Regions from separate parts of the Homo sapiens genome. Here region 1 is linked to region 2. Evidence: fine-mapped expression QTL. A gene starts in region 2. The other region holds a variant in brackets. All regions are shown on one strand. Distances are from middle to middle.

Region 1 (16,524 bases), 250 kb before region 2:
TACCTCTTACTCCTTTTTCATCTTTTAGTCTCTGTGCTCTATTCTATATGCCTCCTTCTAATTTATAACCCAGTTTACCAAGTCTTTCTTTAGCTGTATTTCATCTGATAAACAGCTCCATTTAGTTATTTTTGGTTATCTTTTCAGGACTAGAATCTCTAAAATTTTTTCAAATAAAAAGTTACATGAGTCAAGTAATTATAACAACTGGAGTCCCTGTGATCTGTTTTTATTATTTTTCTATTGATTCTGGCTTTTGTGTATTGTCTCATCATGTTTGTTTACCTGAAACACTTTCAGAAATAGTTTGAGAATTAGGATGATGTCATCAGTCTCCAGAGAGGATATTTTTTTCCAGGCACTGGAGAGTAATAGCAGTCTGTGACCAAGATTTGATTTTGTTTTAGAGCTGGAGTACAATTAATACCTCCACTTCAACAGTCTAGTTGAAGTTTCCTCCAGTCTACTTGTGGTTAAATGAAGCCAATCTTTTAGTAGATTTTCACTGGAAAGACTGACATAGGCATACTTTAAACTATTTTTCTATGATCTGATACTTGAAGGACAGCATGACCTTACATAAAATCATTGGCTTACACTTTCTTTCCTTGAGGTGTTCTTGAAAATTCTGCTCAATTTTGCCTTGCTCTTGCTTGTGAAAAGTCTAATACCCAGTCTAATTCTCTCTGTAAGTCTTGGGAACTTGTCTTTATAGTTAAATAGTTTTTCTAGGGTATGTCTTGAAGTTTACTATTGATGATCAATTTTCCTGGTACTCTGTGGGCTCTTTCAATATGAACTCAGGTCTTTTTATTTGAGGAAAGCTTTCTTAGGTTATTGGTCTTTTCTAAAAAAACTTCCCATTTTTAAATAAATTTTAGATATACAGAAGAGTTGCATGAATAATGCACAGAGTGCCTGTATATCCTTGACTCTGCTTCCCCTAATATAACAATTCACAGAAACATAGCACAATCATCAAAATCAGAAATTAGCTAAATACTATTAACTAAACAACAGACTTTATTTGGATTTTGCGTTTTCTCACTATGATCTATTTTTGGTGTCAGGATTTTGTCCAAGATTTCACATTGCATTTAGTTATATCTCCTCAGTCCCCTACAGTCTGTAACAATTCTTTGATTTTTCCTCTTCTTTCACTTTGACACTTTCAAAGAGTACTGGTAAGTTATTTTGTAGAATGTCCTTCAGTTGACTTTTTCCTATGTTTTTACATGATTATAATGAAGTTATGCAACATTTGCAGTTATATTGCAGTAATGATACTATATAACTTCTCAGTGAATCATATTTAGGGGTTTATTAAGTCTTTACTGGTAATAATGAACTTTAATCACTTATCTATCAGGTTTCTCTTCTGTAAAGCTACAATCTTTCCCTTTGTAATTCATATGTACCTGGAGGGATGTACCACGAAACAATGCAAACCTGGTTCTTCAACTTTTGCCCACTCATTTGGCATTTTTTCTTCAGTAAGATGGGCCCCTAATGATCCCTCCTCCCCCCAGTATTTAGACTCTTGTGTAGCCTCCTACATGGTCTCTGGGTTGGCATGTTTGGCAGAAATAATATGCCACTTCTAAGATTAGGTGATAAAAGACACCGAGGCTTTCCTTGTAGGCATGCTTTCTTATGTGTTCTGTGTCTCCCTCTCTTGGGTCACTTCTTCTGTGGAAAATCAGCTGCTGTTGTTAGCAGCACTGTGGAGAGGCCCACATGGCGAGAAACTGAAGTCTCTGGCCAACAGCCATATGAGTGAGTTTAGAAACAGATTCTCCAACCCCGATCAAGCCTCTGATGACTGCTGCCGTGGCTAACGCCTTAATTTAGTCTTGTAAAAGACTCTGGGCCAGAATCACCCAGCTAAGCTGCTCCTGGATTCCTGATCCACAGAAACTGTGATGTAATGTGTACTGTTTCATGGCATTATGTTTTACAGTAATCTGAAACACAGCAATAGACAACTAATACAGTCTGAATCACTTACTCTGCCATTACTGGAAGCAACAGTGTCTATGTTCATTTAATCACCACATTAGCTATTGTTTCCATTGCACAGATAAGAAACCAAAGTGTGGCAGATATTGAATTAGCCACCAAAAAGCCACTCACAATCCTTTTTGCCTTTGGATTCCTCTAGCACAGCAGCTCGCAAGCTAAAATTACCGCCCCCCCCGGCCCCTCCAGATTTCCTCGCATTTTGTAGCGGCCACCTACCATTACTGACTAAAGAGGTGTATGTACAAGTGCACCAGGAAAGGGCTTCTCTTGTTGAGCACAGGATAAAGGCTTAGGAAAAGGCTTTTGGCCCATTTGCTTTTATCCTGCCTGGAAAATGAGGTGAGCTACTATCTCGCTTTCATCCTCATAGCAGCCTGGATATTAGCAGTCATCTTGCAGCCATGAGGATAAAACCTATAATCTAATGGTATGGAAAAGGAAAACAAGAGAAGCTGAGATCCATATTGATTCCCTTGAGCCGCAGCCCCTTCCTCGTATGTCTGCCTCAGCCTTTCTTTTGCCTGAAACCAATAAACTCCTTACTTCTTTAGGCCATTTCTTAGTCAGGTTTTCTGTGGCTTGAAACAGGACACATTCCTAATTGATATACTCATGTAAGGAGAAGTAACTCAAATGGTAAACAATACCATCGGACTAAACACAACATCTAATTAGAAGTAGGTTCTGGTGCAAACACGTCCAGGTGTCCTGCAGAAGTCCTGACCATGCCAGGGAGAGTAAGGAAATGTGTGTTCTACTCCTCCACTTTATTGCCAAATTTTCTACTTTGTAACCTCCAAAAGCCATGTTCTGGCTGCTACCCCAACCACGTCACCAAAACTATCCTCATCAAGGATATCAACTGCCTCCTTTGTCACAAAATCCAATGAATACATTTTGGCTCTTAACCTCTCCACAGAACTTGACACTTGTTGACTGGTTCCTTTTTTTAAAAAAAAAACATAATTCCTTCTAGGATTTCACATTCCAAATTTTCTCCTTCCTATCTGCGTCTCTCATAAATCTTGTCCTCAGGCTAACCATCTTCTGCTTGTCCTCTAAATGAAGATAGTATTTAAGGGTATTACCACAGGCCCTTTTCTCTCTGGATGAGATCCATTCCCACGGCTTCAGTTACAGTTTGTTGGTGATGACTCCCCTGAGCATCTACCCTTCAAACCCATCAATTATCACATCCCCATTTGGATGACTCACAAAAGCCTCACTTTCAACTGGTCAAAATCTGTACATATCACATTCAACTTTATACCTGGATAAAGTTGATTCTAGCTCATGAAATAACACAACCAACCATCAGGCCAGAACATAAGTGGTTTCTGTCACTGCCCTAGTATACATCATACACCATCCTCATCTCTCCTCTGGCTACTGAGTTACCCTCCTGAATGGTTTTCCCAAATGTTCCTGTTCCCCTCCTCTCATTCTCTTGGCCTACGGCCTGCTTTTGTAAATTAAGTCTTACTGGAACACAGCCATGCCCATTCACACACACACATACACATCCATATGCATATGTGTGTGTGTGTGTGTGTGTGTGTGTACGTCTAGGATGCTTCTGTATTATACTGGCAGAGATTAATAGTTGTGACAGAAACCATCTGGCCCTTTATAGAAAAGGTTTGCTGACTGCTGCTCTAAACTGAGGCAATAACCAAAATAGAAAAGGTTTGCTGACCTCTGCTCTAAACTGAGGTAATAACCAAAATAGAGGCCACAAAGCCCAACATCCATAACACTACTCAGGAAGCCATGATCTGATTCCTGCCTATTGTTCCTGCAACAGCTCTTACCACATGCTCTTCTGCTTTCTATGCTTCAACCATACTGTACTTCCTTCAGTTTCCTGAGTGCAACCCTCCTTATTCTTATTTCAGGGTCTATGTGCTGCACTCTTTAGAATGCCCTCCCCCATTCCCTCTTCACTTAGCTCACTTTTTCAGGCAGGTCTTGGCTTAAACATCATTTCTTCCATGTAACCTGTGAACTTCCCAAACTAAACGAGTCTACTGATTCCCATAGACTAACTTGCTGATAACATCCTATTGAACTGTAATCACATAATCAGTGTTGTTTTCCACCAGACTGTAGGCAGACACTGACCCTTTGTCTTGTTCAACGTGGGATCCCTATAACTTACTTTAGTATCTGGCACACCTTAGGCACTCAATATTCTTGGCCGTCCCTCATGTTACTGCATTCTGTCAACTCTCTTCAGATACTGTCCACATCTCTCTGTCCCGACCACAACTCCCCTACTTGAGCCAACTATCATGTTTTATCTGGAGTCTTTCAACAGATGCCTGGCAGGTTTCTCCACTCTAGTGGATTTTTCTCCAGAGTGCAGCCAGGTTGACTTTTCTAATGCAAATCTGATGTCACTCTACTATCTAAAGCCCTAAAATGCCTTCCCATTGCTCTCTAAAAAAGTCTAAAACCCTCAGCATGGCTTACAAAACTCTTTGTAATTTAGATTTTACCTCTCAAAAGCACCTATGCTTACAGTCAAAATGATTCCCTTTCACATCCACAAGTGCTCTCTCAACTCGTCGCAAACAATATTCTCTATGCCTGCCTGAATCACTACTCTCCACACTTGTTTCACCCAGATATCACCTACACAATATTTGGGAATCATCATCTCTCCCCACTGGAAGCCTCCTCATACACCCAAGTCTGGTTTAGAGGGTCCATCTATAGCACCTTCTACTCTACTTCTCTTCTCCTCCAAACACACATACCATTTGTAACACTAATCATACAGAAAGCGAGGTGAGAGAAGGGACTATCTGACTTCTTTTCCACTGTATTTCCAGTATTTATCATAGTGCTTGGTACACAGGAGGAGTGCAATAAATATTTACTAAATAAACGAATTTAAATGCTTCAACATTGCAGCAATTTTGCGTAAGTTCAAAAGAAAACTTTGAAAGAGTTCATTGTCTTACTAAATCTTATTGTGTCTTCCAATCCTACGCCCCTACAAATCCAACATGAACCCCACACTCATTTCAACCAGCTCCCCTAATTCTCTTAACTTATATTGCATCCTTTACATTTTGTATCCGTGTCTCCAAACCCCAGTTAATTTAGCAGTCTAATTTCTATCCTTCAGGTCCTAAGCTGCTAAACTCAGGGGCTCCACAAAGTTACAGAATCTTTCTAACTGGCTCCATTAAACTTAGGTTTTCTAACCCCACTTGGCTGTCAATATAACTTCAGTGGTGCTTCCCCTTATTTCTGGCCTGTTCTCTCTCCTAGCATATGTCTAAGCTTTTGCCACTTATCTCAAGCCCCCAGATATGCTAGGCCTGTTCACTCTCGGTACATGATCCTGCTCCTTTGTCACCAAGAGAAGAGGGAATCAGACACAAATCCTCTTATTTTGCTCTAGACTTTCTTTCCTTTTCTCTTGTATCTTTTCCCCTCAACCTGAAGCTTTTATCTGTGCTCTTGACCCCACTCCTTCTGGTCTGCTCTTGGGCTCTACCTCACTGATTTTGGTACTGTCACATCTTACATTAATTTAACTTGCACAAAGGCAGCTCTACACAAGGTTCCATTGTGTGTTTTCACTGTGTTGCATCAGCTGAAGTCACATTCATTCCACTACTTGTACTGTACACTAAGATGGCAGGTCATAGCTCTTCCATACCTGATATGCCTAATTAATAGGGAGCTTGAAGTGTCATAAATAGAGAAGTGATCATGTTGCTGTTTTGCCCACTCCAGCTCATCCCTGTTGAACTAAGCAGTGCTTGATATCATCTAGCCAGATCATAAGGCAGAGGAAAGAACTATGTGCTGTGAATGGGACTGAGACACAGTCATAAGTCATCTGCTCTCCCACAATCATCAATCATCAGGCATCCTCACCAATGAATTCATCTTCTCTCGGTGATTTGATTCTAGTGGTTAAAACCATGCTTTGTGTCCCCCCCAACCCCAAATATGATCTCAAATATAAGCCATCAACAGCCATTTGAGAGTCAGCAATTAGAATCCTGGAGATAATACAGAGAGTCTTAGACCACATCTCTTCCCATATTGCTGTTTCCTCTAAGCCTTCAGTGCTTTTAGTCAGCATCTTTTTCTAAGTCACAGAAATCAGTAAATATCGGAATACATAAAACAGAGAAAGGTCTGAAGAGAAATGGACTGCTAGCTGATAAATGGCTGGTGAGCTTCAGGATGGAGAGGTAGGGGTGAGGACTGTCAATTCAAACAAGAATGCAAACCACTCAAAATAAACATTCTCATAAAGCACTAAACATTTCTGAAGTCTGGCTGGGAACTTTCAGAAAAGAACAGAGATCACAATTCCTCAGATCTACATACCCATTTCCTTCTCCCCCTACCAAACACACACACTTAGCAAAGAATGTGCATTGATTATGAGACAAGGACTGAAGAAGCAAGAACTCACTCTGCAAATAAAAGAAAAAAAGCAAAGCAAACCCTTTACACTTACTCCACCCTAAAGCAACTACTAATTATGTTGTGCTTTGATCTTTTCAGCCATGTTCACTCACATATATTACTGTCAATATCTTTGGGGGAAAAAAAAACATGTAAGCAGTAAACATTTTAAGGACCTTTCACAAACCAAATGACAGCAGGTTTTTATTAACATATCTTACAATGTTGATTATTCCTAGTTTTGTAATTTCTGCTTAATTATAAAGATCAATTTAGCTTCTACAGTAATGTACTGTATTTAAATGATCATTCATACAAGATATCACACCAGTACATTTTTTTGAATAATATACACACATCACTCTAACTTGGACCTGTTATTTTTAAAAGTGGGTTTATAAATGGGACTTATAAAAGTTATGGGGAAAAATTAAAGTTCTAGTTTAGCAGCATGCATGTATGTATTCAAGTACAATTTTCAACCAAGTGCTTTTTTAAAATTTACTGGTGACTAATTCACCAATATCAAAATAAACACTATCAAACACCCAAATTTTAAAGTTAAGGCTAATATTTTCACTTCACATCCATATGCACAACCATAAAACATTCCATTTTAAATAAGTAGTAATCAAAGTCTGAATACATTATACCATGTATATATAGCATCAGAGTTTCAAACTGTAGAATTATTCAAGTTCATGAATCCTGTAACAGTATTTACTAGAGATGTCAATTAGCATTTTGCTCTTCAACCACACTTACAAATGGTCTGGTATTCATAACGATCAATGCAAAAAGTATGACAGGCTGAACTTATGATACAGTATTTAAAAAAGTAGCAATGTGTTGGAAAGGACAGCTATTTAGTCGAACAGAATCATTGACTCTTACAGAAAGTTATCTTAATATTTTGGAAATGTATATAAAAATAGCAAGCTATTTCCATGTATTTTATTGTAGAACGATAGGTAATCTTTTGACTTTCTGAATACATTTGAATATGTACTGCTCTGCTTTCCATATTTTAATGCAAGGCCATGATTTAATGTCCATTTTTATACTCTTGTAATGTCATGTCATTACAAAAATTTTTTAGAACATGGATCTGACATATTTTATCATTAGATTTGTTTAGTTTATTTTTACATGTAAAAATGTAATTTTATATAACAAGCCATGGAAGTCCAAAGTACCAGGGATTGCTTGATAGCACTATATATTAAATAATCATTCAATTACTGAATCATTTAGGAAAAAAAATCTTTGTAGCAATATGTCACATGCTTTTCAGTAATCTTCCTTCTCATAGAGTGGGTTTTAGCTCAATCATTCCCATTTTTACTGATTTTTAAACCCTGCAAACATAAATTGTTTTTCACAGCAGTTTCTAAGAAGAATGCAGAAGCGTGGCTCATTCATGAGGGTCATCACCACTG[C/T]GCCTTTTTTTTCCTTTTAGGAAACCGAGCAGAAATAGTAGTGATTACACTGCACAAATACAATATAGCTGAACCTCTTGAGCTGAAAGGAAGTTCCAAAATTTATGGTTCATTTCTGGGGAAGTCTGAGCATTTCTAATACAATCATATAAACAAAACCTTGTTTGGTAATAAAAGGTGGGCATGCACGGAATCAACATCTGCCCAGTGTATGTTCTTAAACCTCTTGATTTCATAGTAAGATTTGTTATTACCTCTAGTAATTCATCCAACTGAAATGGCAAATTTTGATTTTTAAGGACCCCCCAACCACACATATGCCCCCCAAAATGTACTGTATTATATTAACAGCAGCTATCTACTTATTTTACAGCTATTTCAATTATTTACCTGGGGAGAAGATTTATGAAATTCCTGAGAATGAATTCAGTTTTCAGCAAAGCTTTAAACTTTTAACAGATTCCTCACAATAAGAAAAAATTTTAAAGTTCTACTATTAGACCAACTTTTACTATACAGTATTTCACATAAATCATGTTTTACATTTTTTTCTAATTACATACAGAAAAATTCTCCAATCAACACAAGAATGGCAGAGGAAAAAAGATGCATTATGCTTGGCAGATGCAAATTAAAACACACAGACAGAAAGAAGCAGTAAAATGTCAAATAAATCACACCCACTCTAAGTATCAATGAATAGCTGATACGCATTGTTGGGAGAATCATTTCTGAATGAGTTTGTGAACAAGTTGTGCTTCTTATTAATTGTGCACTTAAAAAATGACCACTAAAGAATAATTTAACTTGTTATTAATGTTCTCCAGATATTAAAAAAAAAAAATTATACCATTAACGTGATTACCAAGCACCTAATTTTGGAAAGGCTTCATAATGTATGTTTTCTTTTTCTCCCTCAGCAAAAGTGTTAATCCCCCAAATTAAGTTAAAGCTTATTGTTGAAAAATAAATTCGTAGCGAAAATGATGATACGATGCAATGCTGAGGTGGAGAGTCACAGCCCATTGTAATGTGGACCCCATCTTTTATTGATGTGATCAAAAGTATGAGAAATCCACTGTTGCTCAAGAACTTTGTATCTTTCCTTACAAATGTAGAGAGGTTTGCCTCGCCTAGAACAAAAAGAAAAAAAAAGTATTAATATCATACACGGAAGATTTCACATGCATTTCTTTCTTCTTTTTTTTCTGAGACAGTCTCTCGCAGTGCAACCTCCGCCTCCTGGGTTCAAGCAATTCTCCTGTCTCAGCCTCTCGAGTAGCTGGGATTACAGGTGCTCACCACCATGCCTGCCTCCTTTTTTTATTTTTTTATTTTTTATTTACTTATTTCTTTTTTGAGACGGAGTCCCACTCTGTCACCCAGGCTGGAGTGCAGTGGCACGATCTTGGCTCACTGCAAGCTCCGCCTCCCGAGTTCATGCCATTCTCCTGCCTCAGCCTCTAGAGTAGCTGGGACTATAGGGGCCCGCCACCACACCCGGCTAATTTTTTGTATTTTTAGTAGAGACGGGGTTTCACCATATTGGCCAGCCTGGTCTCGAACTCCTGACCTCAAGTGATCCACCCACCTCGGCCTCCCAAAGTGCTGGGATTACAGGCGTGAGCCACCACACCTACCACATTTCTTTTTTTACTAGATTCTTTTTTGAGACAGTCTTTCTCTGTTGCCCAGGTTGGTGTGCAGTGGCACGATCACAGCTCACTGCAGCCGCCACCTGCTGGGCTCAAGCGATCCTTCCACCTCCTCCCGAGTTGCTGGGACCACAGGTGTATGACCACCACACCTGGCTTATTTATTTTTATTTTTTTGTAGAGATGAGGTCTCACTATGTTGTCCAGGCTGGTCTCAAACTCCTGGGCTCAAGCAATCCTGCTTCAGCCTCCCAAAGTGCTGAGATTACAGGTGTGAGCCACTGGGCCTGGCCAACGGATTCTTTGTGGCAAAAACCTCACATGGTAATTTGGTGTATTTCATGTTTCCTCAACGTATTGATAGGGACAATAGCTCAAAAACTAGAAATAGCTCTAAATTAATGACTGTCAGAATTTCTTAATATTAAAAAAATTGTAATTACAAAGCCAGGAATAGCATATTGGTTTTCACTGACCAAATTTCAATAAAACACCTGGATATATCCATGAACATCTAACCTAAGATCCCGGTCTTCCTCTCCATGAGCATCCAAATACACGGAACCCCAGAGGCAGAAGCGGTGACCTCGAATGATGATAATTACCGATGCATTGATCAAAAGGAAAATACCTGTTCCTGCACCACAGTTCTGAGAGTGCTAAAAAATTAAAAATATATTAATGAACTTCATAATCAAATAGGCTTTATAATAAAATCAAGAATATATTAATGCCTTCTAAATAATACAGTGATTTAAAAATAGTAAGATTTCATTTAAGTTAAACTTATAACTCCATTCCTAACACTTTATTATTAATACATTAGGAGGTATTTGGGTAAGGAATATCTAGTAAAGCAATTAAGAGCCAACCTAATTCAGAGTCTAGTATCTTCAACAGCACAGATGACTTCTGTTTCACAGCACATTCCAAAGTACATACCATTAAAGGGATAGTAGATGAAAGGAGAACTAGAATTGTACTTAAGGAAGGATTTACTCACTTAAAGCCTCAAAGACTTTCTTTTTTTACTCTTCTACTGGATTAAAAAACACACACAATCCCTATATGTATTATATACTTAATTCAAAGAGTAGTTAATATGAAGAGATGGCTTGACCATATTTTGTGATATGAGATCTGTGTTTTCATAAATTTTGTATTATCTACTATTGCTTACCAGTACACATTCACAGTAACTTTGTTGCTTGCAGCAAAGTCCTTTCAGGCATACAAAAGTACCACACACAAGGCAAACAGCAGGATCTTTAGGAACCTTGGTGCAGACACTACAGGTTTTTCTGTGGTAGTACTGAAAAATGGTGTTATAATTCTCAGGCAACTGTAGTAGGTGTGGTAATTTCCATTTTGACTCTTGGATAAGCAAGGCCTAAAACATTATCCAAAAATATTCATTAGTTTTATGTATTTAAGTCACTAACACAATATATTTTTTAAATGTATTTTTACAGAAAGAAAAATCTGCCTCCAAGAATGTGGCTTATTTTCTTTATTAACACTCCTCTCATTTCCATCTTATACATGACTAAAATAGTAGTTCAACAGTTACCATTATCTAATGTATTATAGTTTCCAATTACAGTATGATTTAATTTTTTAGATTAAGCACCTTAAAACATTTAAACTTGTTATTACTTTAAAAGAAAAACACCATCTCTAAGCATGCAGGGAAAATACATCTAATTGTATTTGACTTTAAACATGCATAGTGCAAAGGTTTTTAAAAGTTACGTATTTTTTAAAACCAAGTTTTGATCATTCTCAAACAATTCTTTAGCTTTTTCTTTAGGACAGATCATGGTTATAACTCATTTTTTCTACTTTAATACTTTATAATGTAGAATTGCTTTCCTAGAGTATGTACAATTCATTGCACCTCAAGCTGTTAAGATCTTTTATATCCATAAGTGCTGGGCTACAATTCTTTTCATAAATGTCTTGCTATAAGAATAAAAAAATTGTCAAATTAGTTAAATTTCCCTGAAGGGTATGCTTTATTAACTATTTGCAGCTGTATAAAAATACTGGCAGCAGCACTAAATTTTTCTAGATGCTACTCCATTCACACTTAAAAAAGATAAAATGTAGAGTGAGTCTATTATCTTAAGAAACTGTAAGTAATAGTCAATTTAAATGGAGATCATCTCACATTACCTACATGCAGCCATAATCCACCTAAATCAGTGGAGTAACTAAGCTAGCTTGTTCCTCATCAACAAGTTCATGGATTAAGTGTCCATGGAAGCAATGATAAGAACAGTATACAATACATCATTTGCCAATACTCAGCACCCAACCCTGGACTCCAAGGATGGCATTCTGTAATGAGTTGATTACAGTGGAACCCTTCCATTAAAGGGAAGGGATAACAATTTGTCCTCACTGAACTTGACACTTATTATAGGTTAGGCTGCATGTTATCCAGTAGCCCATAGCACATTACCTCCAATAATTTCCCTCATGAAGAGAGATGTAAGGCAACAGGTGGATGTCCATGGAATTCACTGATCTTAACATATATTCAATCATCTGAAAAAAGCTGTGGTATTTTAAATCATGAACTACAAAACTGATTTTTTCAGTGCCACAAAAATTATGAAATTCATGAAATTTACAAACTTTTAGATGGCACCAGCTGGAAGAAATCACCTACAGAATGTGTATGCTCTAAACAGCAACCAGTATATATGGGTGACCTTTTTCACAATTGGAATGCATATGTATGGGAAACAAGAGGTGGAAAGTATTTAACAGCTGTAACACCTCTCATGATTACACCTAAAATTCGGTCTTGCCTTTCCTGTTGCGGCCTGTGTGGAGTTCACTCGTGGGTCTCTGAGACCCAAAAATTGAGAGCATTTTCGCACCCCAGGGGCTGCGCCTGTGCCATGCCACAGATCAAATATATTGAATTACACTGTAAATGCCATGGATATCATTTGGATTACCATGAGAAAAAGGGAAAGAAGGAAAGTTGAGAGGCTTATGAACATTCAAAGAAGTCAAAGAAAATGATTGGTCTGAAGGCTAAGCTTTATCTTAAACAGCACCATGCTGAGAAAATACAAATGAAAAAGACCATCAAGATGCATGAAAAGAGAAACACCAGACAAAAGAAAGACTCCACAGGGAGCAGTACCTGCCTATCTGCTGGACAGAGAGGGACAACCTCAAGCTAACGTACTTCCCAGTATGATTAAGCCGAAATGAAAAGAGAAAGCAGGAAAATGGAAAGTCCCTCTGTCTAAATGTAACTTGCCCAGGGAGATACAGAAGTGTTAAGAGTTATTTGAACAGAGCCAGGTGCAGTGGCTCATGCCTGTAATCCCAGAACTTTGGGAGGCCAAGGTAGGCAGATCATTTGAGGTCAGGAGTTCAAGACCAGCCTGGGCAACATGGTGAAACCCTGTCTTTACTAAAAATACAAAAATTAGCTGGGCATAGTGGCAGGCGCCTGTAATCCCAGCTACTCAGGAGGCTGAGGCAGGAAAATCACTTGAACCCAGGAGGCTGAGGTTGCAGTAAGCCAAGATCGCTCTACTGCACTCAAGCCTGGGCAACAGAGTGAGACTCTGTCTCAAAGTTATTCCAACAGGAAAGAGAAAGACGCAGGCATAGAGGAGGATGGTTACTAAAGTCTGCTTTGTTGGAGATGGCTTTACAAGAAAACTACTTATCTATGGAAGATTCATCAGGCCAATGGGCTTGCGTTTCAAGAAAGCCCATGTAACACATCCTGAACTGAAAGCCACCTTTTGCCTAACAATACTTGGTGTAAAGAAGAGTCCCTCATTCCCAATGTATATAACTTTGGATGTTATTACCAAAGGTACTGTTACTGAGGTGAATGTGAGTTGGGCCTTGTGACACAAGGAGGCAAGGTTATTTGGGGAAAATAGGCTGTGGTTACCAACAATCCTGAAAATGATGGATGTATAAATGCAGTCTTACTGGTCTGACAGCACTTTCATAGATATTTATTGAAGACTACACACCAACTGAAAAAACTGCCATTACTGTGATGTTTCTGAATACTACCAAACAGCCTTACATGTCTGCAATCAAGAGATTTATTAAATTGTAAACATTAAAATGGAAAAAAAAATTCGGTCTTAAATTTCTGCTTCACTGCTATTCCGGACTCTTCTGCGGATTTACAAGCTATGTACTGTCTAACCTCTAGTACGGTTTATAACATCACAAGGGTGGCTTATCGCATTGCCTGGAGGGATTGACCATGACTATCAAGAAGAATAAAAATATTGCCATACAATTGGTAGAGCAATATTTTGGAACTTAAAAACCCCTACCACCACCCCTACCATAGACCAAGCTTGAAAGGCAGAAATTTAACACAGAATGATTACAGCCTTATAGAAACAAAGACAGGACCAATCACCAGAAGCTCAGCCCTTTCAGAATAAAGTTTGGTATCACATCCTTGCTCAAACAAATCCAATCATCCGTTGAGGTGTGCTGGATCACGGATGGTAAAAGAAGAAAGTCATATATATTTGACTGTATATTAGCTGCAGCTTTATGACTACTTGCAAATCTTGCTTACTGTATCATATATCTTTGCAACATTTTCATTCTCTTACTATTGAATTCAGGGTGAGCAGGTACTAATTAAAATTTTCCAGGCCATCTGGGTGTGAGTACAAATGACAGGAACAATGGACATCTCTCAGAGCTACTGGATGCAGAGAGGCCTGATGATGTAAGGACTATATGTGACATCAGGTTGCTTATTTGGGAAAGTCACAGATGCATTTGCAGTCATAAGTAAAATGGTTACATCATTTTCAACAGCAGAAGTGAAACTGTGAATGAGAAGAAGGGTGTGTATGAGCCAGGCAGGTAAGATGTGAAAGTAGTGGGCCACTAGTTTGTTTTTTAAATCCTCCTAGCATCCTTTGCTGCTTTCTTATATTAATAACATTATAAGTTCTTTTAGAAAATAACCCCTTTTCTTGCTCCGTACAGTTCTGATGGGGCTGTCCCCAACACAAGATCCTGCCCCACCACTGGGGTATATGTATTACAACAGTTAGGCCAACCAGATTCTCTCTCCCAGGAATCTGAACCTTGAGCATGCAAATTAAAGGAAGGAAAATGGTTGAGGCTTAGTTATCTGGTGGCAGCACTTCAGAGAAAACAGAGCAGAGATATTTGTGGTTTCTCTTCTTCCCAAGCGATGACAGTTAAGCTCTTCAATTCTGCAGGTTACCAAGTATGCTTCCAATGAATCCTGTTTTTTTTTTTTTTTCTGTCATAGTTTGCTTTGGTTTTCCTTATTTTAAATCAGAACTGGATTTTGTTGTTCCCAAACAAAGAATCTTAACTGATAAAAAAATTCAGAAGTAGTAATTCACAGACAGTTTTTCAAGGGTAGTACTGTTGGACTATACAGCTCCTGTCACCATTTACCCTGCTAAGTCTCGCTATACAGATTTAACATTCCTGAGAAAGAGAATCTGGTTGACCTAGGGTCAGGATCAGGGTTAGGAACACAAGAGTGGAGCAGGGACACAAGGGGGAATACAGGTCAAATGGTGGTGTACTTACATAACTGGCAAAAATTCTGCATTAGCATAAATTAATAAATTAATCAAATGTCTACTACACTGCCTCTACAATAATTATCACCTAATTATATGAAAAGATTAAATATTTTAAAATGAAAAATTCTTATTTTCCATCAGCATACATACAATAATCATTCATCTAAAATGTAGGCTTGATTTTAACCTATGGCTCATATGAAGACAAACTCTGGGTGTGCTCATCACTTTTTTCCCTGCCTTGGTTCTACAATTATACCCCTCTTACTCCATGTCATCCTGCATAGGTTTTCAGACATCAAAGTATGATGTCAAATTATTGCTATATGCTCTGTGAATAAAGAAATTACTAGACAGGAAGATATTTGTATATGTAATATGCAAGATTCAATTAACTTGAATTTCCCTTTTTTTTTAAAAAAAGGGTATAAAATGAGATAGCATCTTTTTAAGGATTTCAGCAAAAAATGGAAAAGAACAAAAGCAGAGACATTTATAACTTATGCTTATCTTTTATTATTCACTCCAATGTTTTAAAAATGAAACCTAGTCTGACACATTCATCTGAAATATTAATTTTTTATTGTCCCTTTGATGTTCAAAATTAAAATTCTCACTTTCCCTGAAACTTGGCTCCCCTTTAATACGTTCTATTTCTGCCAAAGACACCACCCCACAACTTAATTGTTCTACAAATATTTATTAGGTGACTAGTATATATGAGGCACTTTCTAGAAACCGGGGATAAATAAGGAACAATTTCTGCTTCGTGGAGCCCCCATTCAGATACATTAAAGAAACAAATGTAATGAACATGGCAACTGTTAGAGAAAGTCACAAAAGTACAGCCTTATAGAACAACAGAAAAAAAAGGGATTAGGATGTAAGGAAGATGGACTATCAGACAAATCTTCATGGAGGAAGTCACATTTATCTTAGCAAAGGTAAATGTTACTTAGCAAACAGTGATTATTAATTCAACAGAAGGGTAGGAAGGTTGCTTTAGTAACAGCAATAAGTAATGTTCTAGAAGTTTAAAAATGTATAGCATACTTATGAAACATTCTTTTGTGATTTGAGCAAGGTAATGGCAGAGGGAGGCTATACGATGAGATGGAAAGGCAAGCAAGATGGTGAAGATCCTTGAGTGCCATGCAAGGAGTCCATACCTTCTTCCATAGGCAATGGGGCATCAGCAATGGTGTTTAAGCAGCCGCATGTTCCTACTGTAGCTGTATATACTAGACACTACTCTCCTAATGATTGGAGTTCAAGATCTTAAAGTCATGTACATCTGGTCACCAAGTCCTATATTTTTCTCAAATGTCTCTTACATTAGTTACTTTCCAAGTTTTACAATCAGAAAAATAGTCTAGATTTTTTTCA
Region 2 (16,524 bases):
CCCTATGTTGTTCTCATGATAGTGAGTGAGTTCTCACGAGATGTAATGGTTTTATAAGCATCTGGCATTTCCCCTGCTCGCTTCTCCCCCCCTGCTGCTCTGTGACTAGGTGCCTTCTACCATGATTCTACGTTTCCTAAGGCCTCCCCAGCCATGCTGAACTGTGAGTCAATTAAACCTCTTTCCTTTATAAATCACCCAGTCTCCAGCCGTTCTTTTTCCTTTTCTTTTTGAGACGGAGATTTCCTCTTGTTGCCCAGGCTGGAGTGCAATGGCGTGATCGCGGCTCACCGCAACCTCTGCCTCCCAGGTTCAAGCAATTCTCTTGCCTCAGCCTCCCGAGAAGCTGGGATTACAGCCACACGCCACCACACCCGGCTAATTTTGTATTTTTAGTAGAGATGGGGTTTCTCCATGTTGGTCAGGCTGGTCTCGAACTCCCGACCTCAGGTGATTCACCTGCCTCGGCTTCCCAAAGTGCTGGGATTACAGGCGTGAGCCTCCGGGCCCGTTCAGGCAGTTCTTTATAGCAGTGCGAAAACAGACTAATACAGACCTCAATCTCATACTACATGTAAAAATAAATTCCAGATGGACAAAAGACCTAAGTGTACAATGAAAAACCTTAAATCTTTCAGTAGAAAACATATAAGCATTTTTTTAAACCAAGGTGAAGAAGATTTCTTTAACAAGATACAAATAATACAAACTGTAGAAGAAAAACTACATTTTTAATTTAAAATCGTTTACAACAAAATTATATATTTCAAGGTAAAAAGACAAGACACAAACTAGAAGATGAAATTAAGTATTTATACAACAAAGGATCAGCATCTAGAGTATGTACAGCATTCTTAAAACTCAGTAAAACAGAAAAACAAAACAGGCAAATAATATGAACCAGCAGTTCACCAAGAAAGAAGCCCAAATGGCCCCAAAACATATGAAAAGATGTTCAACTTTACTAGTCAAGAAAATATAAATTTTAAAAAGATGTTTGTATCCAACAGATTGGTAAAATATTATAAATTTATATATATAACACCAAGTGTCTTTTGGTTTTTTTTTTTTTAAGTTCTGAATTACATGTGCAGGATGTACAGGTTACATAGGTAAATGGTTGCTGTGGTGGTTTGCTGCACCTATCAACTCATCAACTAGGTATGAAGCCCAGCATGCATTAGCTATTTTTTCTGATGCTCTCCCTCTCCCTGCCCCCGACCCAACAGGCCCCTGTGTGTGTTGTTCCCTTCGTGGTGTCCATGTGTTCTCATTAACACCAAGTTTCAATAAGCAGAAAAACAAGACCTCAAATTCCTGGTGGGGCCAGGCGTGGTAGCCCATGCCTGTAATTCCAGCACTCTGGGAGGCTGAGGCGGGAAGATCACCGGAGGTCAGGAGTTCGAGACCAGCCTGGCCAATATGGTGAAACCCCCATCTCTACTAAAAATATGAAAATTAGCTAGGCATGGTGGCGGCCGCCTGTAATCCCAGCTACTCAGGCGGCTGAGGCAGGAGAATTGCTTGAACTCAGGAGGCGGAGGTTGCAGTGAGCCGAGATCGCACCATTGCACTCCAGCCTGAGTCTGATGGGGACAGAGCGAGTTTCCATCTCAAAAAAAAAAAAAAAAAAAAAAAAAATATATATATATATATATATATATAGAGAGAGAGAGAGAGAGAGAGAGAGAGAGAGAGAGAGAGAGAGAGAGAGACAGTGCACACAGGAATTTCAGGAAAATGGTTAACGTCTGGAGAGGAAAAGAGAAAGGGAAAGGTGGGTTGACCTTTCTTTGGTTTTTTGACTAAAAGCAACTCTAGAGCAAACATGGCAAAAGGTTAATATCTATTCATCTCAATGGTAAGTACAAAGGTATCTGTTATACTACTTTTGTACTTTTCTGTAAATTCAAATTGTTTCATAATTGAAAATAGTTTTAACTGAGTTTTATAATGATTTAAAAATTAGGCCACGCACGGTGGCTCACGCCTGTAATCCCAGCACTTTGGGAGGCCAAGGCAGGTGGATTGCCTGAGGTCAGGAGTTCCAGACCAGCCTGACCAATATGGTGAAACCCCACCTCTACTAAAAATACAAAAATTAGCTGGGCATGGTGGCATGCACCTGTAGTCCCTGCTACTAGGGAGGCTGAGACAGGAGAACCGCTTGAACTCAGGAGGCAGAGGTTGCAGTGAGCCGAGATCATGCAACTGCACTCCAGCCTGGCAACAGAGTGAGACTCCATATCAAAACAAACAAACAAACAAAATATGAATATTTTAGGTGTAGTATTGGTATTGTGGTTTTGGGGGAGTTGTTTGTTTTTTGCTTTCTTTTCAAGAGATGAGGTCACTTCATGTTGCTGAGGCTGGAGTGCAGTGACTATTCCCAGGTGTGATCATAATCCACTGCAGCCTCTTACTCCCAGCCTCAAGCAATACTCCCAACTCAGCCTCGGGAGTAGCTGGGACTACAGGTGCGAGCCACCATACCTGACATTATTTTTTAATTGTGGTAAAATATAAATAACATAAAATTTACCATTTAAAACATCTTAAGTGTACAGTTTTAGTGGCATTAAGTACATTCACATTGTTTTGCAACCATCACAACCATCGATCTCAAGGACTTTTTCATCTTCCCAAACTGAAACTCTGTACCTGTTAAAAAAATAACTCCCCAATCTCCCCTTCCCTTGGCCTCTGATAATCACTATTCTACTTTCTGTCTGTATGAATTTGACTATTCCGGGCACTTCATATAGACCGAAGCATACAAGCATTTGTTCTTTTGTGCTGGGCCTATTTCATTTGGCATAAGGTCTTCAAGGTTTATCTACATTGTAACATTCTAATGTGTCAGAATTTTATTACTTTTTAAGGTTAAATATTCCATTGTACGTATATTCCACATATTGCTTACCCATTCATCTGCTGATGGACATTTGAGTTATGTTTTAGAGTTCACATCTCTTTACTGAGATGCATACTCAAATATTTTTAAATTAAATTATAAGGTATCTGATATTTGCTTCAAAATAGTCCTGGCTGGGACGAAAAAGCAGTGGGACAGGGAGATAACAGATGAAATGGGATATAACTTTTCACTTATGAGAGCAGCAAAGATCAGAAACACTGATACCACCATATATACTGCCAGAATATGGGGAAACAAATTGTTTCATACATTGTTGGCAGGAATGTAAATTAATTTCTTTGGAGGGTTCTATCAAAGTTGAATTTGCAAATTTCCTTCAACCAAGATATAACTTCTAGGAATGTATCCTCATACATAAGCTCACACACATATGAACAAGTGTATACAAGAATACTGACTGCAACAATGTTTACAACAGCCCAAGTCTGGAAACAATTTAAATGTCTATCAGTAGGGACTGACCGCAAAAATCATAGTACATTACAAAAACATGGAAATACAATGAAATACTATTTAACTTTAAAAATGAAGCAGTTCTACTTTTGAGATAGTATCCATAAATATGTTAAGGGGAAAAAAGCAAGCTACTGAAGAGAGTAACACTATTCAACCAGACATTCACGTGGTTCAATTTCTGGCTACCACAGATCAGAAAACCTAAAAACCTCCCACAACACAGGCCAGGCACCACACTGTGGCTCACGCCTATAATCCCAGCTCTTTGGGAGGCTGAGGCAGGTAGACTGCTTGAAGCCAGGAGTTCAAGACCAGCCTGGCCAACATGGTGAAATACCATCTCTACAAAAAATACAAAAAGAAATTTAGCTGTGTGTGGTGGTGTGCGCCTACAGTCACAGCTACTTGGGAGGGTGAGGTGGGAGATCACTTGAGCCTGGGAGGTAGAGGCTGCAGTGAGCTGTGATATCACACCACTGCACTCCAGCCTGGGAGACACTGCGAGAACCTGTCACTAAAAAAAAAAAAAATCTAGAAATGCTGGATAAATTATAACTAATCTCTTTTAAACACATAAGTAACCTTAAAAGAAAAGGAAATTTCTTACTGAGGGGTAGGATGGAGAAAGGCACCTTTACTTTTTACTTTATCCACTTATTTTTATGTTATAATCAATGTGTATTACTTCTGAAACTAAAAAAAGAATGAAAGCACTCTGAAAAAAGCTGCTATGGATTTAATAATCAATGCCACCTCATGAGTAACTAAAGCAATGTAATCTTACAGTAACTTTTTGGGTATAGCAGCCACTTTTTTATCCAATTTAATTCAAAATTACTGACACCTCCTAAGTACAAGAGACTTAGTAGGTGCTGGCCTCTGGCTAATAGCAAAATGTGGTCCTTATCTTTTAAGGAGCTTAGAATATGTGAGGAAGAACAAGCAAGGAGACAAAAATATCTGTAATATAGGACAGAACATGAAACTCCTCATTCTCTGCACCAAAATTTGAGAACTAAATGTTTAAAATCCCAGTTTCCAGTTAGTATCCCATCAGAGCCCAAAACCAGCTAGTCAGACATTACAGTTGACCCTTGAACAACACTAGTTTGAACTACAAGGGTCCACTTATACAAGGATTTTTTTAACTAAACATGGATCAAAAATGCAGAATTCATGGGATCTGACACTCACATACATGAAGGGCAGACTTTTCATATAAGCAGCATTTCAGTATACCCTGAAGAGTGGGTGGGAGGTGGGTATTCTGGAACCAGTCTCCTATGTATACCATATACTGAGGAACGAGTGTATTTTAGACTTTCCATTACAGGTTATTTTGTTTTGAGTTCATCCACCCATAAAGCATTTTTTTTTTTTCCAGATGGAGTTTCACTCTTGTTGCCCAGGCTGGAGTGCAATGGCATGATCTTGGCTCACTGTAACCTCCGCCTCCTGGGTTCAAGCAATTCTCCTGTCTCAGCCTCCAGAGTAGCTGGGATTACAGGCATGCACCATCATGCCCAGATAATTTTGTATTTTTAGTAGAGATGGGGTTTCTCCATGTGGTCAGGCTGGTCTTGAACTCCCGACTTAAGGTGATCCGCCTGCCTCGGCCTCCCAAAGTGCTGGGATTACAGGTGTGAGCCACCACGCCCGGCCCCCATAAAGCATTTCTGACAATGACTGCACTTACTCACTAGTGGCAAAACTGTAGTTATACATACAGTTTTTTTGTTTTTTTTCCTGAGACAGAGTCACGCTCTGTCGCCCAGGCTGGAGTGCAGTGGCGGGATCTCACTCCAAGCTCACTCCAAGCTCACTCCAAGCTCCGCCTCCCGGGTTCACGCCATTCTCCTGCCTCAGCCTCCCGAGTAGCTGGGACTACAGGCACCCACCACCACGCCTGACTAATTTTTTGTATTTTTAGTAGAGACGGGGTTTCACCATGTTAGCCAGGATGATCTCAATCTCCTGACTTCGTGATCTGCCCACCTCGGCCTCCCAAAGTGCTGGGATTGCAGGCGTGAGCCACCGCGCCCAGCCACATACAGTTATTAGCACACAATTTCCATAGCCTTTGTGATTTCATCCCACAAATGAATCCTCAATTGTTTTCTTCCTTTGGTTTGTATATCTGCTAATACTGCCACATTGATTATATCAATACTACTCAGTCAAAAATAACTAAATCCTCCCCACAGTTCTATAATTGCTAATTTGAAAATTAAATATAAATACAGCTGTGATAGATTCAAGATTCTTCTCCATCTCCAATCAAGAACATCCTACAGGCAACAGTCAGACACTGGTGAAAAGGATTATGGCACAGAAAGATTTATTCTCATTTACTAAGAGCACAAATACAGCTGAAAAAAAGGAATCCTTCCTCTAAAAGTGACTAAACCATGAAATTTACAAACTTATGGCAGTTAGAATAAAAACCCCAAAATCAACACACATTCAATCTTTGGCAATCTAAAGGGGTTTTTAAAATACCAAAAACTTAGAAAAGTTCAAACATTCTGTTCATGCCAGTGTAGTCCAGCTTTGCCCATGAGAACACTGTTACAAGCTGTTGATGATTTCCAGTTCTAAAAAGGTTCCAGAGGCAGTCTTTTAGGTTGCAGAGCTGGTCAACATCACCTATTTCTCTTGAGGCAGTAAATTAGCTGTATAGCCCAGGAAAATTACTCTATCCAATCCAAGCAGTTAGAAAAAATTCAGAGTAATTGCATGGCCACAATACTGTTTATTGTTCAATCTTGCCCTTTATGAAACTGGACATGGCAACTGCTGACACATACAGGCAATAGCTCTGGTTTCAGACAAAGATAATAATAAATCTTTAAATATTATGTATCCGGCCGGGTGTGGTGGCTCATGCCTGTAATCCCAGCACTTTGGGAGGCCGAGGCGGGTGGATCACCTAAGGTCAGGAGTTCAAGACCAGCCTGACCAACATGGAGAAACCCTGTCTTTACTAAAAACACAAGAAAAAAAAAAAATTAGCCGGGTGTGGTGGCGCATCCCTGTAATCCCAGCTATTTGGAAGGCTGAGGTAGAGAATCACTTGAACCCGGGAGGCAGAGGTTGCGGTGAGCCAAGATCGTGCCACTGCAATCCAGCCTGGGCAACAAGAGCAAAACTCTCTCTCTCAAAAAAAAAAAAAAAAAAAAAAAAAAAATATATATATATATATATATAATGTACCAACTCATAGAGGGTTGCCAGACTGGGAAAATAATACTTACCTATGAGACACCAGTAAAAGCAAATACCATGAGGTTAGGATGTTGACTGTCTATAGCCTGGATGCCCTAAAACTGTATGAATACCTTCAAAGAAACTCACTGACATATTTCTGGTAGTACACTGAAGCATCACAAGCGATCAGACTTCCATCTCATCCACGACAACCTGATAATTACCACTGTATTCCAAAAGTCAGGAAAGAATCAGTGTTATTTCCTACCTTCAGGTTCTCTGGAGGCTTTCCTAAATGCTAACCCAGTCCAAGAAGTAAAAATGTCTAAATATCAGTAAAGGATTGCTCCAACTCCTGTTTTGATGTGCCTCTTTAAAACAAAACAAACAAAAAAAGTTTAAAAAGAAAGAAACAAAGGCCCAAATAAGAATAGCATATTAAGGAAAAAAAAAAAGATAAAACATAGAATTGAAAAGAAAAACCAGTAAGAATGCTATTTAGTAGGGGCAGTAAAGAGAAATGGTTGATTAGTCTGGCTCCAGAGCCCTGGAGCCAGCATGCCTAGCTTACTGCCTGTGTGAACTTGAGCAAGGTTTTTAACTCTGCCCTACTTTCCTCTTCTGTACAATGAGAATAATAAAAGTAATAATCTCAGAGTCAAAGAATAAATAAGTTAAATCACATAAAACAGCTAGAATTTGGCCACTTTTAACCAAATAGATAAAAGTCCAAAATTTTACTACTACTCTGTTGATGAGGCTGTTGGAAAACAGGCAGTCTCACAGAGTAATTAGTACTAAGCCTTAGGGAGGGCAATTTGGAAATCACACTTTTGAGAATTTATCCCACTGACTCTCTTGACCAGGTGGGGAAAAGACAGATACACCACGTTTTTAATTTTATACTGGAAAGCCAAATGCCCATGAAGAGACATTAAATCAAGAATGGCAAATTCACACGCACAAAAAATAAAAATAAAAATAAAAAAAGAAATTAAAGAATGGCAAATTGAAAACATGGAACACTATGCAGCAGTTTTTTTAAAAAAATAGAATGACGACACTGATTTTTTAATAGGAAAAATACATCTAAGATAACCAAAAAATGCAAGATGTAGAACAGTGGAAAGTATGTAACCCTTTGCATAAAAAGAGACTGAAAAACTAGGAAACATCTTTGCTTGTTCTGCACCAAGAGAAACTAAGCGGGAAGGAACTGGACAGATAGAAGACTAGATGTGAGAAAAACTTCCGTGTGTGTGTGTGTGTGTGTGTGTGTGTGTGTGTGTGTGTACTTTTTAGCTATATATTTTACCTATTCAAATATTAAATTTTAAAAAGTACTTTTAAAGTATCAGACATACAGTTCAAGAACTCAAATGTTGGCCGGGCGCGGTGGCTCACGCCTGTAATCCCAGCACTTGGGAGGCCGACGCGGGCGGATCACCTGAGGTCGGGAGTTCGGGACTAGCCTGACCGACATGGAGAAACCCTGTCTCTACTAAAAAAATACAAAATTAGCCAGGCGTGGTAGTGCATGACTGTAATCCCAGCTACTTGGGAGGCTGAGGCAGGAGAATCGCTTGAACCCAGGGGGCGGAGGTTTCAGTGAGCCGAGGTCGCGCCATTGCACTCCAGCTTGGGCAACAAGAGAGAAACTCCGTCTCAAAAAAAAAAAAAAAAAACTCAAATGTTAGCTGCAATTATGTTGTTATTATTATTAGCAAATTCAAAATACCTCCTTTCTGAAGACTTTTTCTTACTCCCTCTGCACAGAAACCTCATCTCCCTCCTCTAGCTACCAAGTTATTGTTTAAGGAATTTATTACTTTCTACTCCAGTGCAAGTAGAGTAAGGGGTTGGTCAATGTTTCATTCATTTTTAATATCCAAGAAGCCTTGCTTGCACATAGTAGGTACAAACATTTTGGAGTAACAGTAACCTTACAAGTACTCCGAAGAAAAAGGTGACCATTTATAAAAAGATTGTACTCTGTCATTAATCCTAAGACCTGAAAATTGAAGAAGTTTAATAACTGATAGCAACCTGTAGTTGCTAATATTCTTTCAACTACTGCCCATCCAAAATCGCCCCTTTCACTTTTTCCTTTTTTCTCAGACTGTCCCTGACATTGACATCATGTTCCAAGCCACGACCCTACATGTACCAACTCTCTGTAACTCACTGCAAACTCTGAAATGTCTTTTCTCATAAGTCCCAACATCTGATGCATCGCTTCTGTCAAAAGGGCATTTGTTGTCTCCTTTTAGACAGAGGTTCACGTATCAGTGAGTGAACAAAGTGCCCTTAACTGGAGAAGACCTAACACTTGATTCCTGGTTCGCTCAGTATTTTGTTTGTTCTCCTGGTATGGAGGGTATTCTGTAACTGACTGCTCAGTAGCCCAATTCTAAATGTCATTCCAGCATACCAAATAATCCACTGACAGCTCAACAGTCACTTTTCATGCAGGCCCCTCCCCTTCCCTCCTCCCTCAACCCTCAAGAGCTCCTTCTCTCACAGTGACAGACACACTGGCAGTTCAGAAGACCTTTTCCTCAAGCGTCCTTCCCTGCACGTACAAGACCACCTCCCCAGCTCTCATCATCCCGCGAGCCAATACGGTCCCCAATAACATCCCCTCCCAGCCAATCCAAATCACAACCTAAGTCTCTTCCCAAGAACCAGGCTTTACAGCCTTTCCCAACAAGTACACACTTGACAGCTCGACACGAGCTTCCCCAAAAATCATTTCCCCTCACTCCCCTCCTACCCCATACACTGGCTCTTTTCTCGCTATCATTTACCCACCCTGGCTTCCCCAAAATTCACAGCCCGGTTTCCTAAACATGCTCTCCGCTCTCCTCTCCCCTCCTTCTCCTCCCCACCCCCTTTCCACCGCTGACAGCTCAGTCACCTCCATCCCCCTGTGGCTGCACCCTCCCCCGCACCCTCCCCTTGACAGCTCAGAGTGGGCTCCCAGTGCTCCGCTCCAGGCCCTCCCGCGACGTCCCCGGCCCAGGGTCGCCTCGCCCGCGGGGAGGGCTCCACTCACCCGCTCTCCCGCATCACGTTGCTGTCCCCGCAGTCGCAGGCGCCCCCGGCCTGGCTGCGGAACATGTTGAAGTCGTGTCCGGTGTGGTCGCCCTGGTGGAAGCACTCGGCGCACAGCGACATGCAGGGCGAGATGCCGCACGTCCGGCAGCGGTAGGCCACGAAGTTGGCTGTCCAGACCAGGCCGCAGAGCGCCGCGGGATCGTAGGCCCGCACCGCCGCGCAGAACTCGTCGTAGCCGCCGCCGCCCGCCAGAAGGCACTTACACCACTCCAGGGCCTCCTCCTCGGCCGCCCCCGGACCGCCCCCGCCTCCGGCCGCCGCCGCGTCCTCGCCGCCGGCAGCCGCGGCCAGCGGCCGCTCGGCGCTCAGCACCCGCTCCAGCAGCGCCTGCAGCTCCTCAGCACCTGCGCGGTTGTCCGGCCGGCTGAGGGCCGCCTTGAGGTGCGCGGCGGTGGCCGCCTTGTCTAGGGCCAGCCCCGGCGCGGGCAGCTCGGGCTGTGACGGCTGCTGGCCCCCGACGGCCGCCGCGGCCGCCGCCGCCATGATGAGAGCTCAGAATTTGGAGAGTCCAGGGCCAGCGGCTCCTCCAGGGAGAGTGAGGGAATAGACTGCTGCGATTGCTCGGCCCGCCCAACTCTCGCGATACCCGGAGCGTCCGCGCTCCTCCGCCCGCAGCCCCGCCCCTACACACGCCCCCTCGGGCTGCAGAGCCTTCCTCCCGCCCCTCTCTCCTGGGCGCCTGTGGACCAAGCTAGGCTCCCAACTTTCTAAGTTAAGAGCTACTGAAATAAAGTACTCACCTTATAGGAAATCTTTAATAAGGGCAATTATTTCTTTATTTGCATAGACTACAGGAATTATTCACATCATCTTTCAGATGTACTTTAGGCATCTGCATTTTGTCTGAGATGTACATTCCTACTGTTATCAAAGTCCAGCGGGCGACAGAATGAAACCCCAACTTAAGGAAAACAAAAACTGTAGGAAAAGCAATCCAAAGAAGAACAGAAGGCCAGGCGCGGTGGCTCACGCCTGTAATCCCAGCACTTTGGGAGGCCGAGGCAGGCGGATTACTTGAGGTGAGGAGTTTGAGATCAGCCTGGCTGACATGGTGAAACCCTGTCTCTACTAAAAATACAAAAATTAGCCGGGCATGGTGGCGCACGCCTGTAATCCCAGCTACTCCGGAGGCTGAGGCAGGAGAATCACTTGAACCCAGGAGGCGGGGGTTGTAGTGAGCCGAGATCGCGCCACTGCACTCCAGCCTGGGTGACAAAGCGAGACTCCGTCTCTAAAAACAACAACAACAACAACAACAACAAAGAAGAACAGGAGTGTTTCCAATCCATAACCTTGTGTTTGAAATGAATGAAACATAATTAAAACAGGTTATTCCTGGTCTTCTACATGAGTTAAGTATGTCACGATCATCATATAACAGTGATAAGTTAAATTTGCTCAATAATTTTACGAATCACTAAATTATAAACTAAATAAAACTTTATGTATTAACTTTACATGCTAAAACTTTGTATGTTTTAACTCATTTGATTCTCATAACAGATAACTTTGAATTCTGCTATTCCTAGAAGTAGCAGCCTCAGACACTTCTCTACTTCGTCATCGTCCATTCACTCTTTTTCTTCTTCCTATAATAATGCAAAGAGGTGTCCATCCACAGGCTTAAACGCAATCCTGCAATCCTTTTACTTAACCACTGGATCCTGCCTTCTCAGGATCCCAACTCCATCCAATATCCTCTTGCATTTTTAACCCCTCTCTTTCTATTAGCTCAATTCTTGTCAGAATTTGTCTCCTCCTGTCTTAAAAATAATTGAAAAAATAATAAAGCTTCCCCCATTACTAAGCATCCAACCATTCTTTTCGTAGGCCACCTTTCTCTTTCTCTTTCTTTTCTTCTTTCTTTTTTTTTTTTTTTTTTTTGAGACAGGGTCTCACTGTCGACCAGACTGGAGTGCAGTGGCGCAATTTCAGATCACTGGAAGCTTTGCCTCCCGGGCTCAAGCGATTTTCCCACCCCAGCCACCCGAGCAGCTGGGACCACAGGCTCGCGTCATCAGACCCAGCTAATTTTTGTATTTTTAGTAGAGACAGGGTCTCCTTATGTTGCCCAGGCTGGTCTCAAACTCCCGTCTCAAGCAATCCGCCCATCTCGGCCTCCCAAAATGTTGGGATCACAGGGGTGAGCCACCGCTTCCGGGGCCACGTTTAATTGTTCACATTTACTCTTTCTTCTTCCTAAATTTCCATTCGCTCCACAATCTGCTACAACTTAATTTCTGCTCCTACTTTATGAAGCCCGACCTCTTTCCAGTATTTGACACCACTACCTATTCTTTTATTTTCATTTCCACTGTCTTTTTTTTTTTGAGACGGAGTCTCGCTCTGTCTCCCAGGCTGGAGTGCAGTAGCTTGATCTCGGCTCACTACAAGCTCCGCCTTCCGGGTTCACGCCATTCTCCTGCCTCAGCCTCCCGAGTAACTGGGACTACAGGCGCCCGCCACCAAGCCCGGCTAATTTTTTTGTAATTTTAGTAGGGACAGGGTTTCACCGTGTTAGCCAGGATGGTCTCAATCTCCTGACCTCGTGATCCACCCACCTCGGCCTCCCAAAGTGCTGGGATTACAGGCGTGAGCCGCCGCGCCCTGCCTCTCCACTATCTCTTCTTTGGGTTTCTTTGACATCACCACTCCTGTGAGAATTGCAAGTGACACAAATGACCTAAAAATTGGGAAACAAAGTTACAATAAAATAAGGCATGAGAATGGAGAAGGAGGTAAAGGTGAATGGAGATCGCTACTTTTTGAGCCGAGACTTGGGAAACAAGAAGAGTCACTCTGGGCCATACAACAAAGTGACTGTGACTTTCTCTCCCGCATCCCTTTCACTCTGTCTTTCCCCATCCTTTGAGGGCCCGCAGGTACTCATGGCAAACTAGAGGGTAATGAGCACGCGACAGGCGGCGAGGACTGGCGGTGGGTCAGCAAGTAGCGCAGGCTTTGCAGGCGGAGGGGATGGGGCAATGAGGCCCCCAGGTGGCCAGCGGAACCCCGGCTCAAGATAAACGCTGCAGCTCGGCGCCGGGCCGCTGGGCGGCGAACGCGTGCGCGCGTGCGGCCTGGCGCTTCCGGCACCGGCCGAGGTGCGGGTCGCCTCCAGAGGTGCGTGGTCGTGGCGCGAGGGATCCTGAGGCTGCTCCAGCAGTGCGCCGCCGCCGTCTCCTGGGGCGGCTTGGGTTAGCCGGGAGGTGGGTCAGAGGCTCGCCCCGTGCCCTGCGTCCGGGCGTCTCCTTAGGGCGCGTCTTCGGGTCCGGCCAGCGGTGCTGAAAAAGGGAGAAGGTTGGGGGTAGGGAGGAAACAAGATCCCAGTTCAATAGATTTCTCCGCAGATCCTGTGCCTTCAAACCCTACGAGTCCATACTTTAAAACAAAATGAAGAAAGTAAGGCTTAAGGAACTAGAGAGTCGCCTGCAACAAGTGGATGGATTTGAAAAGCCCAAGCTACTTCTGGAACAGTATCCTACCAGGCCGCACATTGCAGGTAGGGCGGCTGGTTCACCACGCCCCGGCTTTCGGCGTTAGTCCAGTCTACTCTGTGATAAAAATAGAACAGTTATTTGGATACAGAGAATGTCTAGAGAAATTCTGCCCTAAGATCACCTGTCGCGTTAGAGAGGCCTTCCTTGACACTGCAGCTCAAGGCACACCCTCCACAGACATACACACTATCATTTTACTGTCTAGTTTTCTGCATATCCCTTAACACTGCCAGACATCTTTTTAATGTGTTTTTTTCTCTTCTCACATTACAATCTCTGAGGACAAGGAATTTGTTAGACTTGTTCATACTTGAATTCCCAGTGCCCAGAAGAGTCGCTGGTACTATTTAGGAGCTCAGTAAACATTTACTAAATAAGGATCAGTTTCCCATTGCTACTAATTGCCTACGCAAGGATTCTTGTGCTATATACTCTGCCCTAGAAATGAATACCAGAGTTGATAGTGGAATGATAGTTTAACAAAATCAGAGTATGTGCTGTGTAAAGATGAGCATGCATATTTTAACAGATTTTCTGAGCATTAGCATTGTTGCTTCATGCCAGATATTGATACTGGGAGTACAAGAGAGAATACAGGACAACATATATTTATGTTACCGAAGTCATTGGGAAACCTTAGGGGAAAAAAATTTTATTATTATTATTTTTTGAGATAAGGGTCTCACTCTGTCACCCAGGCTGGAGTGCAGTGGCATGATCACGGCAACTGCAGCCTTGACCTCCAGGACTCAAGTGATCCTCCTACCTAAGCCTCCCGAGTAGCTGGGACTACAGGCATGCACCGTCATGCCTGGCTAATATTTTTTATTTTTTGTAGAGACAGCGTCTTGCTATGTTGCCCAAGATGGTCTCAGACTCCTGGGCTGAAGCGATCTTCCCACTGGGGCCTCAAGAAGTGCTGAGATTACAGGCATGAGCCACTGAGGCTGGCTCCTTAGGAAAATTAATTTTCTGAGAGTACCTGCAAGGAGTTTTTTCCAGTTCCAAAATAGTTGTTTCTAAGTTGTCAATGAAAGTCAAGGAGAATACATGTGTATTTACACTTAACTCCAAGATACTGTCATGATTCCAACCAAAAATTCACACAAAACTACTGTGTCTAGGTTAAGACCAGTTTTCTCAAATAATGACTTACTAGTCTTCTGACTGTAGGTTTTTTTAGTGGAATCCAGTTTAAAAAATAATAACAATCTGGCCAAGTACAGTGACTCACCCCTATAATCCCAGCACTTTGGGAGGCCAAGGCAAGAGGATGACGAGCCCAGGAGTTCAAGATCAGCCTGGGCAATACAGTGAGACCCCAGCTCTTAAAAAAAAAAAATTAGCCTAGTGTGGTAGTATGTGCCTATAGTCCCAGCTGCTGATACTAAGGCAGGAGAATTGCTTGAGCCCTGGAATTTCAGGCTGCAGTGAGCTCTGATCCGCCACTGCACCCCAGCCTGGGTGATAGAGATAGACCCTGTCTCTGAAAAAAAACAACAAAAAACTTCTGGATCCGCAGGAATCAGTGGCCAACAGTCCTTGCTGGGTTCAGATATCTTCAGGGAAATATCGGTGGTGGTGGTATTCATGTTTGACCTTCAGTGTGTATCTAACACCCAGTAGTTCTATTATCAGGTCTCATTTGTAGATTATGAATATATATGTCTGTAGATCATGAGTATATGTGTCTAAAGGCTACATTGTGGAGCTTATGGTGCTTGTGTTCTGGTGACAAACTTGTTAAAACAAAGTTCTGTGGCTAGGCACAGTGGCTCATGTCTGTAATCCCAACACTTTGGAAAGCCGGGGCGGGAGGATCACTTGAGCCCTGGAGTTCGAGAGCAGCGTGGGCAATATAGTGAGAACCTGTGTTTAAAAAAAAAAGAAAAAAAAAGATTCTATGTCTTTGTGATGCTAATGCTTGTTTGATAGTGGTTCCTAGTCTTATAGATTTCACAGATAAGTAAAATTTCAAAACAATTTTGGAAATTGATAGAGTTGCCAAATTTATGTTGACAAAAAAGGATTTTTTTAAAAACTATTTACTCTTACCATTCTTTCTTAAAAATATTTCAGCATCAAAGAAAGAACCGATATGAGTATATGGCAATGTTTTTAACAAGCTGAGGAAAAACTAAACGTTTTGACTTTTTTTTATTTTACCTCAGAGACTGGGCACAGTTTTGTCATTCTTGGCATTGCTAGCAGAGACTATTTTTTGAGAAACACTGGTGGGTATTAGCTTCCTTTATGGTGCCTCTTACTACATACCAAATCATTACCCCTTATCTTTTACAAAAATAATCTGGAATGGCATTTGGGGAGGACTAAGTAATGCAACACAAGAAATTATTTTAGAAAGAGTCATTTGCACAAATTAGATTTTAGTCACCGGCTTGCTTACTTATTCTTTTTTTTTTTATTTTTTAGCATGTATGCTCTATACAATCCATAACACTTATGATGACATTGAAAATAAAGTCGTTGCAGATCTAGGATGTGGTTGTGGAGTACTTAGCATCGGAACTGCAATGTTAGGAGCAGGGTACGTAATGCAATATATGCTATTTGGGTATTGGGTGGCTTTAATAAGGAGCATCAATGGGATTAACTGAATTATATTTATGAGACTCCACAGAATGAGATATAGGGAGCAAAAATCTGATACTGAATACATTTTGAATGGGCAGAAGATCTAAACAAACTACAAAAATTAAATAAAAATGGTGAAAGCAGCAGTTCCTTTTATACAAACCTGAGTTTCCAACCCCTGCCGGGTTTGGAAATTATGCTGTTACACTTGACTGGGCACAGTGGCTCATGCCTGTAATCCCAACACTTTGGGAGGCCAAGGTGGACAGATTACTTGAGCCCAGGAGTTTGAGACCAGCCTGGGCAACATGGTGAAATCCCATGTCTACAAAAAATACAAAAATTAGCTGGATGTGGTGGTGTGCGCCTGTGGTCCCAGCTACTTGGGAGGCTGAGGTGGGAGGATTGCTTGAGCAGTGCAAGATGGCACCACTACACTCACCTGGGTGGCACAGCAAGATCCTGTCTGAAAAAAGAAAAAAAAAAAGAAGAAAACACTCACTCTTACTTTGCTAATTGGGTTAAAAAGATATATGGTTTAAAAAAAAAACAGCTAATTTTGGTTTTGTTTTTACTTGGGAGCTATAAGTCGCCACTCTTTGTATGTGTTTTGTATTTATAGGTTGTGTGTTGGATTTGACATAGATGAAGACGCATTGGAAATATTTAATAGGAATGCAGAAGAGTTTGAGTTAACAAATATTGACATGG

Alleles and levels. Alleles are on the strand shown, and positions count from the first base shown. SD is a standard deviation of normalised expression in the study named.
In carriers of allele C in region 1, the expression in monocytes of the gene that starts at base 10,255 in region 2 tends to be higher than with T alone (moderate effect, 0.61 SD a copy in Fairfax 2014).

The links.
Region 1: its variant is fine-mapped to the expression of UBR3 in monocytes (Fairfax 2014, PIP 0.95).

The regions. Positions count from the first base shown.
Region 1 is chr2:170,074,233-170,090,756 of GRCh38, reverse strand. It overlaps UBR3 (ubiquitin protein ligase E3 component n-recognin 3), which reads right to left. Exons shown (of 39, transcript NM_172070.4): 37 at 10,734-10,943; 38 at 10,073-10,212; 39 at 6,626-9,031. The coding sequence ends at 8,914. It also overlaps the pseudogene NSA2P5. Among named protein-coding and RNA genes, the nearest start is that of MYO3B, 96 kb to the left of the region's middle. RefSeq lists an enhancer at 12,202-12,981. The variant C/T (reference allele first, on the strand shown) is at 7,899.
Region 2 is chr2:169,821,185-169,837,708 of GRCh38, reverse strand. It overlaps UBR3 (ubiquitin protein ligase E3 component n-recognin 3), which reads right to left and starts at 10,255. Exons shown (of 39, transcript NM_172070.4): 1 at 9,657-10,255. The coding sequence starts at 10,201. It overlaps METTL5 (methyltransferase 5, N6-adenosine), which reads left to right and starts at 12,804. Exons shown (of 7, transcript NM_014168.4): 1 at 12,804-13,220; 2 at 15,652-15,766; 3 at 16,436-16,524. The coding sequence starts at 13,112. RefSeq lists enhancers at 7,493-7,992, 7,993-8,494 and silencers at 9,512-9,641, 9,902-10,461, 12,055-12,258.